Linked DNA regions of Homo sapiens: region 2 is linked to region 1. The links come from fine-mapping of genetic effects on gene expression. A gene starts in region 1. The other region holds a variant in brackets. All regions are shown on one strand. Distances are from middle to middle.

The links. PIP is the estimated chance that this variant, and not a neighbour inherited with it, causes the effect.
Region 2: its variant is fine-mapped to the expression of FOXJ2 in whole blood (TOPMed, PIP above 0.99). The same link has a PIP of 0.9 or more in monocytes, monocytes after LPS, monocytes after Pam3CSK4 and monocytes after R848.

Annotation. Positions count from the first base shown.
Region 1 is chr12:8,030,623-8,035,997 of GRCh38, reverse strand. It overlaps FOXJ2 (forkhead box J2), which reads right to left and starts at 3,282. Exons shown (of 11, transcript NM_018416.3): 1 at 2,165-3,282. RefSeq lists silencers at 3,188-3,427, 3,448-3,597.
Region 2 is chr12:8,055,542-8,060,916 of GRCh38, reverse strand. C3AR1 (complement C3a receptor 1) reads left to right here. Exons shown (of 2, transcript NM_004054.4): 2 at 722-4,073. The coding sequence starts at 732. The coding sequence ends at 2,180. Among named protein-coding and RNA genes, the nearest start is that of C3AR1, 8.1 kb to the left of the region's middle. The variant T/C (reference allele first, on the strand shown) is at 2,876.

The DNA.
Region 1 (5,375 bases):
GGAAGCAGCAAGCCTGCAGTGGTTTGCATTACAAAGCCTGCACTGCATCTGCAATGGTTTTCAGGATGTCAGAATCTCAAACTTTTCCTTTAGAGATAATATCACCCAGTACTGGCTAATGCTAGGATCAGGAAGACTCTAAGGATGAAGGAATGAGGAACTATCATCTCTTATCTTCCCGGGGGAACTAGGTGTAGTCATAAGACATGGTCTGGGAAAGCACACTCTCTAAACCACAGTTAATCCCACTCAGTAGCCACCTACTTCTAACTGATTCCAGAGAAGCAAGCAGGGTTAGGGAACTCAGTCCAAGCAGGGCCAGTTAAACTGCGTGGCGGTGGTGTACTTGGAGATGTTGTGATATAGTTCACCCTGAGCCATTCAGGCAGGTGCACGCCAGCATCTGGTGAAGTACTTTATAAGAAACAGGCTGCTGTTAACCAGCGAGGCCTCTTTTGTAAAAGGTAGGGGAAGGAGTTCTGGAGTTAGGAGTCAAGGATCCTCATCCTTCTGAGACCAGAGGTATCAGCAATGAAGCTCTCTTATTAGTCCTAGAAGAAATGATCCCAGCCTGAGACTGGGTTGCCCTGCTGCTTAAAGGACTGTCCTGTAGACCGTCACGAGGGCTCCCATTGACTGGGGGGAGGCCAAGCCTTTCCCCTCAGGTGGCCATCCTTACCACCACCTATCCATGTCCTTGTACAGAGGCACCTGCTTCTAGAGGCCCACCAGAAACATACAATTCTAGGTAACTGGAGTATAGTCTGAAAAGCACATAAGTACCTGTCTCCACACACATACCCACTTGAAACAGAGAGCCACATTCACATGAATTAAGAAGTATATGCATGTTGTCCTATAGCACAGCCACACAAACCTGTGCCCTATCTCATATACCACCAGTAGCTTCCAGGACAAATGACTGTACTCAGGAATTTAGGTAGACCTCACCCATGCCCCAGAGAGAGGAGGAAATATGAAAGGCCAAGTCAGATGAAGCCTCCTTCACAACTTGTCCTTGCTGTGAGACAGAAGATAAGGTATCTGCTAATGGTGAGGCAGGAAAGCAGACAACCAGCTAGTGACCTCTCCTAAAAACAGCCTAGGCTTCAGGGGAGGATTTCCTGGTACCCTTTTCCTGCCTTTTCTGAAGATTCTGGACTTTGATAATTCCCTAGCTTATGAAGGAAAACTTTAACACAAGGTTCGAGGGACTCAGAACTGAACAAGAAACAGGAAGGGAGAGGATGAGACTATTAGGTACTTTTCTGGAAGGAAACTTTATATACTCCTCAGAAGTGAAATCTCTCCAGTGGTCAACTTGTTTAACTGGAAGTCTGGACAGAAGCGGAGCAGCAGCCCTCCTCCCTTCGTATCCAGGATCTAATTTTTCCTGAAGAATTGTGAGCAAAAAACAGGAGTCGAGAAGGGGACTGGGGCAGTGGTTCAGGGCCAGCATCAAGGAAGCACTTTAACCCGGGAGTTGGCATTCCCCTGCACACTTTCTTCTCGCCTCAGAACATGTGGGATTCCCATTTTCCCTTTGGATTTTATGGGCAGAGGCATACATCCAGCTAGGAATGGAAATGTCAGGAGAGGAGGCCTCTTGGTATCTGAGATAGGATGAGCAGGAACAGATTGCTTTTCTTGTCAAGGGAGCTATAATTGCAGTAAGCTGGAGGGAACACCTCTGGTGAACACTAAGCTGACCTCGGCATGCCCTGGGCAAGGCCAGGACCCCAGATGCCACCGTGATTTTCATGACAGCCCACTCTCCAGGGGAAAAGGCCCAAGGGTGAAGGGTGGTATGGGAATCTTACCACTGGTTGGGTTGTGTAAATCACTGCTACACAGTATGCATGTTCTCAAAATGCAGCTGTTTTCCGATAACCCTTTTCCTCAGCATGAAAACATCCACTTCCCTAAGGGACCTAAAATGAATCCCATCCCTTTAGTCCCCAAACACTAAGAAACCCATTTCTCAGAGCTTCTGCAGCAAGATGTGGGTTCAAATCCAGGAGCTCCCTTGGATCACATTTCCCATTGGATTTTCTGAGTCATCACTCTGTCTTCCCCGGCAGTGAAACCCACGATCCACCAGCTCAACCCCCTACACCCACTAGTGCCAGACAATGACAGAGAGAAGATGAAAGAAAGCACTAACCTGTCTCCAAGGTTCCTCCGGCAAAGGGAGGGAACCACCTGGTACTGGAGTTTGGGGTTGGAGGGATTCCCCTCTTCAGAGGCAGGTGACGGCTCTCATCCTCAGTGGCTCTTCCTGGACGAGGCTGAGCCTCCCAAGTTGGTGAGGGGAACTGGGTCCCCTGAGGATGAGGAGTCAAGGTTGGAGGAGGGGGAGGGGGAGGAGAAGGAGGTCCTACTTGGGGAAGGTGGCACACCCCCCACACCCTGCTTGTTACCCGGGGGAGGAGGGGAGGAGCCTCTCCCAACCAGGAGTTGTCTCCTCCCCCTTGGGGGAGTTCCCCTCCCCCCCAAACTGGATCTTTCTGAGGTGGAGGGCTCTTTCTGTCTGCTGGAGATAGGAGCGGAGGGGCTCCACCCCGTTCCACTGTCTAGGCACGAGGAAGTTGAGGGGGAGGTCTTCCCCTCTCCAGAAGGCTGAAAGCCGATTCCTCTTCTTTCCCTGGAGTGGCTTCTGAACGTAAGGACTCCTGTCTCCTGTGAATAGTGGTGGGCCGAGGGTGCCTACTCCACAGGCACAGCCCCGTCTCTCTTTGCCTCCAAAGTCCTGAACTGTTGAGAGTGTGTGTTTGGAGGGGCGGGGGCGCGCTAGGGTGGTCTCACTCTGCTTCCCTACGGAAAGCTCCCTTCTTTCCACTTCTGGGGGTCTCCTCCCCGGCCAGTACAGGGGTCTTCCTCGCCTCTAGGCAGGAGAGAGGCGTCCCCTCCAGGGGTCTCTTCTTTCCCTCACCCGAGTGGTAAGGGTCTTTTCTCTCCAACAGGGGGAGAGGTTGCTCGCGTCCCCGCTCCCGCCTCCGCTCCCGGGGTGCCCCAGAGGGTGGGGCTTTCGTACTCCCGGCTGTCCCTGAGCTGGCCTGGGCAGCACGGTCCGGGAGGCCGCGGCTCGAGACTCCGGTCCCTGCTACTGTGGCGGCAGCACCTCCTCTAGGGCCGTCCTGTCGGGTCCGCTCCCTTCGGCGCGTGGGGCTCCCCGCGCTGCCACCGCTCGGGCTCCGACCAGTCTGGGCTCCCGGGGAGCCAGAAGGCGGGCAGACAGTGTCAGGGCTCGGCGCGGGCTCGGGCTCGGCTCGGCTCCGCTGCAGGCCCCGGCTCCTCCCCGGCCTCCGCGCCGCGCTCCGCGCCCCTCCCCCTCCCCCGCCCGCCGGCCGCTGCCGCCACCGCCTCCCGGCGCGGGTTAAGGAGGAGCCGGGAGACGCCGAGCCGCGGGCAGCGCCGAGCCGCGAGCCTCGCTACCCGGTGTGCGCTCCGCCTGGAGAGCCACGGCCGCTCTCACGCCGGCGAGGGATCTCGCCGCCCTCGCCCACCTGCGGCCGCGTGGCTCCGGGAGTTCGCCGTCTACCCGGGATGACAACTCACTGCTCCCCGTCGGGAGAGTCCCTAGTGCGCACCGTATACCGTCAATTCCAGCTGACACCCCAACTCCGGCGTTTCATTCTGTTAAACTCCGTATACAGATGAACAGCCCCAGCTTTCTCAGGACTGTCTTTGATGGGCTTCTCTTTCCCTCGAGATAATTTATAAAGGATCATGAGCATTGAGGTGAAGATTGGGGTGAAGTTTATATGTTACCCTTATATCATCCTGGAATTCAGTAAATGCTCCTTGAATGAGTGGATACATGATAAATGAGCGTGTAACGGTGAAATAAACATCAGAAGATCTGGGTCCTGTTCCTTGTTTCAGCTTCCTAAACTTGTGCATGGCCCTTGTTCTCCGCAATCTTGCTCAGCGAAGAAGGGACCTTGATACTTGGCCTGCTTACCCTTTACAGCTGTCACATCCTGAAGTCATATTATTCTGCTGCAAATTCTCATATATTTCATACTCTGGCTTTTTTTTTTTTTTTTTTTTTTTTTTTGAGGTGTTGTTTCACTTATTGCCCAGGCTGGAGTGCAATGGCACGATCTGGGCCCACTGCAACCTACGCCTCCCGGGTTCAAGCGATTCTTCTGTCTCAGCCTCCCCAGCAGCTGGGATGCCTCAGCCTCCGGAGCAGCTGGGATTACAGGCGCGCGCCACCACGCCCGGCTAATTTTTGTATTTTTAGTAGAGATGGGGTTTCACCAAGTTGGCCAGGCTGGTCTCGAACTCCTGACCTCGTGATCCACCTTCCTCGGCCTCCCAAAGTGCTGGGATTACAGGTGTGAGCCACCGCGCCCGGCCCATACTCAGGCTTTTTAAACTTTTATCAAACTACCCTACTTTCTTTCCTTTCTTTCTTTATCTTTTTCTTCTTTTTAAATAGAGGCAGGGTCTCAGTATGCTGCCGAGGCTGGTCTTTAATTCCTGGGTTTAAACTATTCTCCCTTTTTATGCCTCCAAAGTGCTGGGATTACAGGCAGGAAACACGGCCCGGCCTACTCTCTACTTTATAGCACATAAGATAATAGGAGGCCAGGCGCAGTGGCTCACGCCCGTAATCCCAAAGCTTTGGGAGGCCGAGGCGGGGGGATCACTTGAAGTCAGGAATTGGAGACCAGCCTGGCCAACGTGGTGAAACCCCTGTCTCTACTAAAAATACAAAAATTAGCCCGGCGCGGTGGCGGACGCCTGTAGTGCCGGCTAAGGCAGGAGAATCGCTTGAACCCGGAAAGCGGTGGTTGCAGTGAGCCGAGACCGCGCCACTCCACTCCAGCCTGGGCGACAGAGCCAGGTTCCGTCTAAAAAAAAAAAAAAAAAAAAAGAATTAGCCAGGCGTGGTAGTGCGTGCCTGTAATCCCAGCTACCTGGGAGGCTGAGGCAGGAGAATCACTTGAAACTGGGAGACGGAGGTTGCAGTAAGCCCAGATCGTGCCGCTGCACTCCAGCCTGGGAGACAGTGAGACACCGTCTCAAAAAAAAAAAAAAAAAAAGATAATACGAATACAAAAATATTGCTTGCAAAATATTTGAATTGCCCCCAAAAGACTGCATACTTAAGTTGTATGTATATATTATATGAATAATTATATTTACAATATGCCAGGCATTGCACTGAGCATTCTGCATGTGTTGTCACATTGATGATTCTAGCGATTCCCTAAGACACTATTATTATACTTCTTTTACAGATGAGAAAATTGTGACTTACAGATACTATGTGTGAGTTCGCTTAATTAGTAAGTAGCAGAGTCAGGACTTAAATCCAAATGACTCCGATGCCCAGCTCTTGACTTCTATACCATTGTCCGGAG
Region 2 (5,375 bases), 25 kb before region 1:
ACCTCAGGTTGGAGACCTCCAGTCCAGATATTTTTGTGTGTTTACTTATTTAGCTTATTTGTTTATTTTTAAACACACTGGGTGAAGAAAGGAGCCAGTGGAAAAACCAAGATTGAAAGTACAAGAAAGAGGAGAAATTTACACTAATATGGACTTCCAGATGAGGCTGTGATTTTGATACACACATAAATCAATACAGTAGATTTTAAATTGTCTATCATAGGATGGGCATGGTGGCTCATGCCTATAATCCCAGCACTTTGGGAGGCCAAGGCAGGCAGATCACCCGAGGTCAGGAGTTCAAGACCAGCCTGGCCAACATGGCAAAACCCCGTCTCTACTAAAAATACAAAAATTAGCCAGGCGTGGTGGTGCACGCCTGTAATCCCAGCTACTCTGGAGGCTGAGGCAGGAGAATCGCTTGAACTCGGGAGGCGGAGCTTACAGTGAGCTGAAATCAATCCACTGCACTCCAGCCTGCGCGACAGAGGAAGACTCTGTCTGAAAAATAATTAATAAATTAATAAATAAATATAATTGTCTATCAGAGAATGCTTTTATGTGGTCCCGTGTGAGGTGAAGGAAGGCAAACTAAAACAGCGTGAGGACCTTCTGGTTTCATGATCCCACATCTTTATGTGGGAAGATTAGAATCCTAAGAATATGTATGCATTTTCAAAAAGATACTGTTTGTTTTAACATTTTTTTCATCTTTTTGCAGAAGTTTAGCAATGGCGTCTTTCTCTGCTGAGACCAATTCAACTGACCTACTCTCACAGCCATGGAATGAGCCCCCAGTAATTCTCTCCATGGTCATTCTCAGCCTTACTTTTTTACTGGGATTGCCAGGCAATGGGCTGGTGCTGTGGGTGGCTGGCCTGAAGATGCAGCGGACAGTGAACACAATTTGGTTCCTCCACCTCACCTTGGCGGACCTCCTCTGCTGCCTCTCCTTGCCCTTCTCGCTGGCTCACTTGGCTCTCCAGGGACAGTGGCCCTACGGCAGGTTCCTATGCAAGCTCATCCCCTCCATCATTGTCCTCAACATGTTTGCCAGTGTCTTCCTGCTTACTGCCATTAGCCTGGATCGCTGTCTTGTGGTATTCAAGCCAATCTGGTGTCAGAATCATCGCAATGTAGGGATGGCCTGCTCTATCTGTGGATGTATCTGGGTGGTGGCTTTTGTGATGTGCATTCCTGTGTTCGTGTACCGGGAAATCTTCACTACAGACAACCATAATAGATGTGGCTACAAATTTGGTCTCTCCAGCTCATTAGATTATCCAGACTTTTATGGAGATCCACTAGAAAACAGGTCTCTTGAAAACATTGTTCAGCCGCCTGGAGAAATGAATGATAGGTTAGATCCTTCCTCTTTCCAAACAAATGATCATCCTTGGACAGTCCCCACTGTCTTCCAACCTCAAACATTTCAAAGACCTTCTGCAGATTCACTCCCTAGGGGTTCTGCTAGGTTAACAAGTCAAAATCTGTATTCTAATGTATTTAAACCTGCTGATGTGGTCTCACCTAAAATCCCCAGTGGGTTTCCTATTGAAGATCACGAAACCAGCCCACTGGATAACTCTGATGCTTTTCTCTCTACTCATTTAAAGCTGTTCCCTAGCGCTTCTAGCAATTCCTTCTACGAGTCTGAGCTACCACAAGGTTTCCAGGATTATTACAATTTAGGCCAATTCACAGATGACGATCAAGTGCCAACACCCCTCGTGGCAATAACGATCACTAGGCTAGTGGTGGGTTTCCTGCTGCCCTCTGTTATCATGATAGCCTGTTACAGCTTCATTGTCTTCCGAATGCAAAGGGGCCGCTTCGCCAAGTCTCAGAGCAAAACCTTTCGAGTGGCCGTGGTGGTGGTGGCTGTCTTTCTTGTCTGCTGGACTCCATACCACATTTTTGGAGTCCTGTCATTGCTTACTGACCCAGAAACTCCCTTGGGGAAAACTCTGATGTCCTGGGATCATGTATGCATTGCTCTAGCATCTGCCAATAGTTGCTTTAATCCCTTCCTTTATGCCCTCTTGGGGAAAGATTTTAGGAAGAAAGCAAGGCAGTCCATTCAGGGAATTCTGGAGGCAGCCTTCAGTGAGGAGCTCACACGTTCCACCCACTGTCCCTCAAACAATGTCATTTCAGAAAGAAATAGTACAACTGTGTGAAAATGTGGAGCAGCCAACAAGCAGGGGCTCTTAGGCAATCACATAGTGAAAGTTTATAAGAGGATGAAGTGATATGGTGAGCAGCGGACTTCAAAAACTGTCAAAGAATCAATCCAGCGGTTCTCAAACGGTACACAGACTATTGACATCAGCATCACCTAGAAACTTGTTAGAAATGCAAATTCTCAAGCCGCATCCCAGACTTGCTGAATCGGAATCTCTGGGGGTTGGGACCCAGCAAGGGCACTTAACAAACCCTCGTTTCTGATTAATGCTAAATGTAAGAATCATTGTAAACATTAGTTCTATTTCTATCCCAAACTAAGCTATGTGAAATAAGAGAAGCTACTTTGTTTTTAAATGATGTTGAATATTTGTCGATATTTCCATCATTAAATTTTTCCTTAGCATTGTCTAAGTCTTCCAGATTCCATTTAAAACCATTTCTTGTTCTCCTACGTGAGTGAAAGATGATCATATATCCTAATGCTTTGTTGTCGTGTGGTGTTGATGGTTTTAAACGAAAAGAAAGTGCAAAAAGAAAATGCCTGTGAAGACAAGAAGCCATGAGACTGAGTCTGGAGCATAGGGTTATGCAATGATGCCTGTCCCTGGGAACACCCCTGGGTACAGGATATAGAAATTTCCACTATTACATAGAGTTTCCACTATTACAACTAAATAAGCATCTATTG[T/C]GTGAAAACTGACTCATGAAATGTTATGAAAGCTGTGGTTTGGGGAGTTCTGTTTCTTCTAACTGCCTACCGGTTGGGCACCTATTTTCCACTCCTCTTCCTAAGCTCCTTAATTTCCTTATTACTCCCCAGCCTCCAAATCTTCCACATCAGACTTTGTGCCTCAAACAACCTCTAATTTCGTAAGATTCTAGTTACTCCCTTCCTCTTGCTCCAAATGAATACTTTCTAAGAAAGTATTTCAAGTGGAAGGAGAAAGAGGGTGGAGGATGGAGCAGCAATTCTTCTACTCTCTGCAACTGAGTACCCTACCAGGCTTGCCATCACATTTTAAAACATGACGACAGGCAACTTACATGCCAAAATTACCAAATATATCTTCTGGGTTTTTTAAATCCTTTTCTTTGCCAAAGTAATACATGCACATAGTTTTAAAATAATTTAATAAGGTATATAATGAAATATGAGGTCTCCTACCTCACTGTGCCCAAAAGTTCCCTCCTCCCACTCTCATTTCCCAGAGATAATCCTTGCACAATTTTAGATGTTTCCTTTGATAATTATCATGATGTTTCTAAATCATGTGCTTATGCTGCTCTTTTCTGGAGGCATGATAAAACGACTTCTTGTTTTGAAAGATGAAGATGTTTATCCAAGCACCCCATATTTTTAATTTGTTTATCCAGCATCCCAACATTCATTAATAACCATATTTTAATTCATTCATGACCACATATTTTTCTTCTACTTTGTCTATACACTCCAACCATTTATATAGCTTTCCTTCTGTCCCTTTTTCATTTAAAACAAAATTACCTAACTCCCTACCACCTTCTCATTTTTCTGTATATATAAATGTTTGTGTCAAACGTCTGAAATTTCTGGCTTGTTTGTATCACAACGTGGCCTCATCTAAACCAAATACAATGATGTAGTCTAAAAACAGAAAATGACATGTGTTTTAGACCTGCAAGACACTATCTGTTCAATGGCTGAGGTGAGGGTCTGGACTACAGATTTTTTATAAAGTATATGCAGAAAAATTACAAATCACTAGGAATTCTTTCAGTTGTGAAGAATGTCTGACATAAGATTTGAAGTGCTACCTTTCCAGCTTATATATTAATTTGCTTATATATTTGATATGAATAAATGCTTTTTTTCTCATGGGTCCTTGCGAGGCTCAGAGATTTATGAATCCTTTTGTTTCACATTCAGAATATATCACATCTCTAAATATGCAGCAAATAAGTCTCCTAGTGAGTGACTATAGACTTGCTATAATAGCAATTAGCCAGGCTTCCAGAAACCCCAGCACATCCCATAAGACCCTGGGAATAAGACCTAAACTCCTGGGGTTAGTGTATAGGATATCAAGGTGAATAATCTTGACGCAGTTATAAAGATTTAATGTACAACGAGTAATCAGCATTTCTGGACTCCTTTTCTTTTCCATTTGCTTTGGAAATGTATTCTGAAGAAATTCCTACAATTAGAGCTCCCTCATTTCTGATGAAAACCTGGTGAGTACCTGTAACTATTTTGTACTGTATCTTCTCCAGGAAGTCCCAGATGGGAACACAGCTCCTGTCCAAAGTATAATATCTTTTCTTTTTTTTTTTGAGATGAAGTATCACTCTGTAGCCCAGGCTAGAGCACAGTGGCACACTTGGCACGATCTCAGCTCACTGCAACCTCCACCTCTCGGGTTCAAGCAATTCTTCTGCCTCAGCCTCTCAAGTAGCTGGGATTACAGGCGCCTGCCACCACACCCGGCTAATTTTTGTATTTATAGTAGAGATGAGGTTTCACCATGTTGGCCAGGCTGGTCTCGAACTCCTGACCTTGTGATCTGCCCACCTCGGCCTCCCAAAGTGCTGGGATTACAGGTGTGACCCACCGCGCCCAACCAATATCTTTTCTTTTTGAGAGAGAGTTTCGTTCTTGTCACCCAGGCTGGAGTGCAACAGTGCAGTCTTGGCTTACTATAACCTCCGCCTTCCAGGTTCAAACGATTCTCCTGCCTCAGCCTCCAGAGTAGCTGGGATAACAGGCATGCACCACCACGCCCGGCTAATTTTGTGTTTTTAGTAGAGACGGGGTTTTACCATGTTGGTCAGGCTGAGCTCGAACTCCTGACCTCAGGTGATCTGCCTGCCTCGGCCTCCCAAACTGCTGGGATTATAGGCATGAGCCACCACGCCCAGCCCCAAAGTATAATATCTTAAATCTTTAAACTATCCTAAAATGCAAGCAAGGTGGGCCTACTCCATATACCAACCTACAAGGGGTGACTGACTCTCCCGCAATATGTCATCATACTTGATAGCATTTGAAAAGAGGCACGTTAAGGACGTGCCTTTGATTCTTCTTTCCCACCAAGGTCACAAAACGTGTCAGGGTCAACTAATTCAACCCAGTGGTGGAAGGTGGAAGAGGAATAAAGACGAACTGAGACTAAATTCTTTCACGTTTCTCTTTTCCTTCCCTGGCCAAAAGA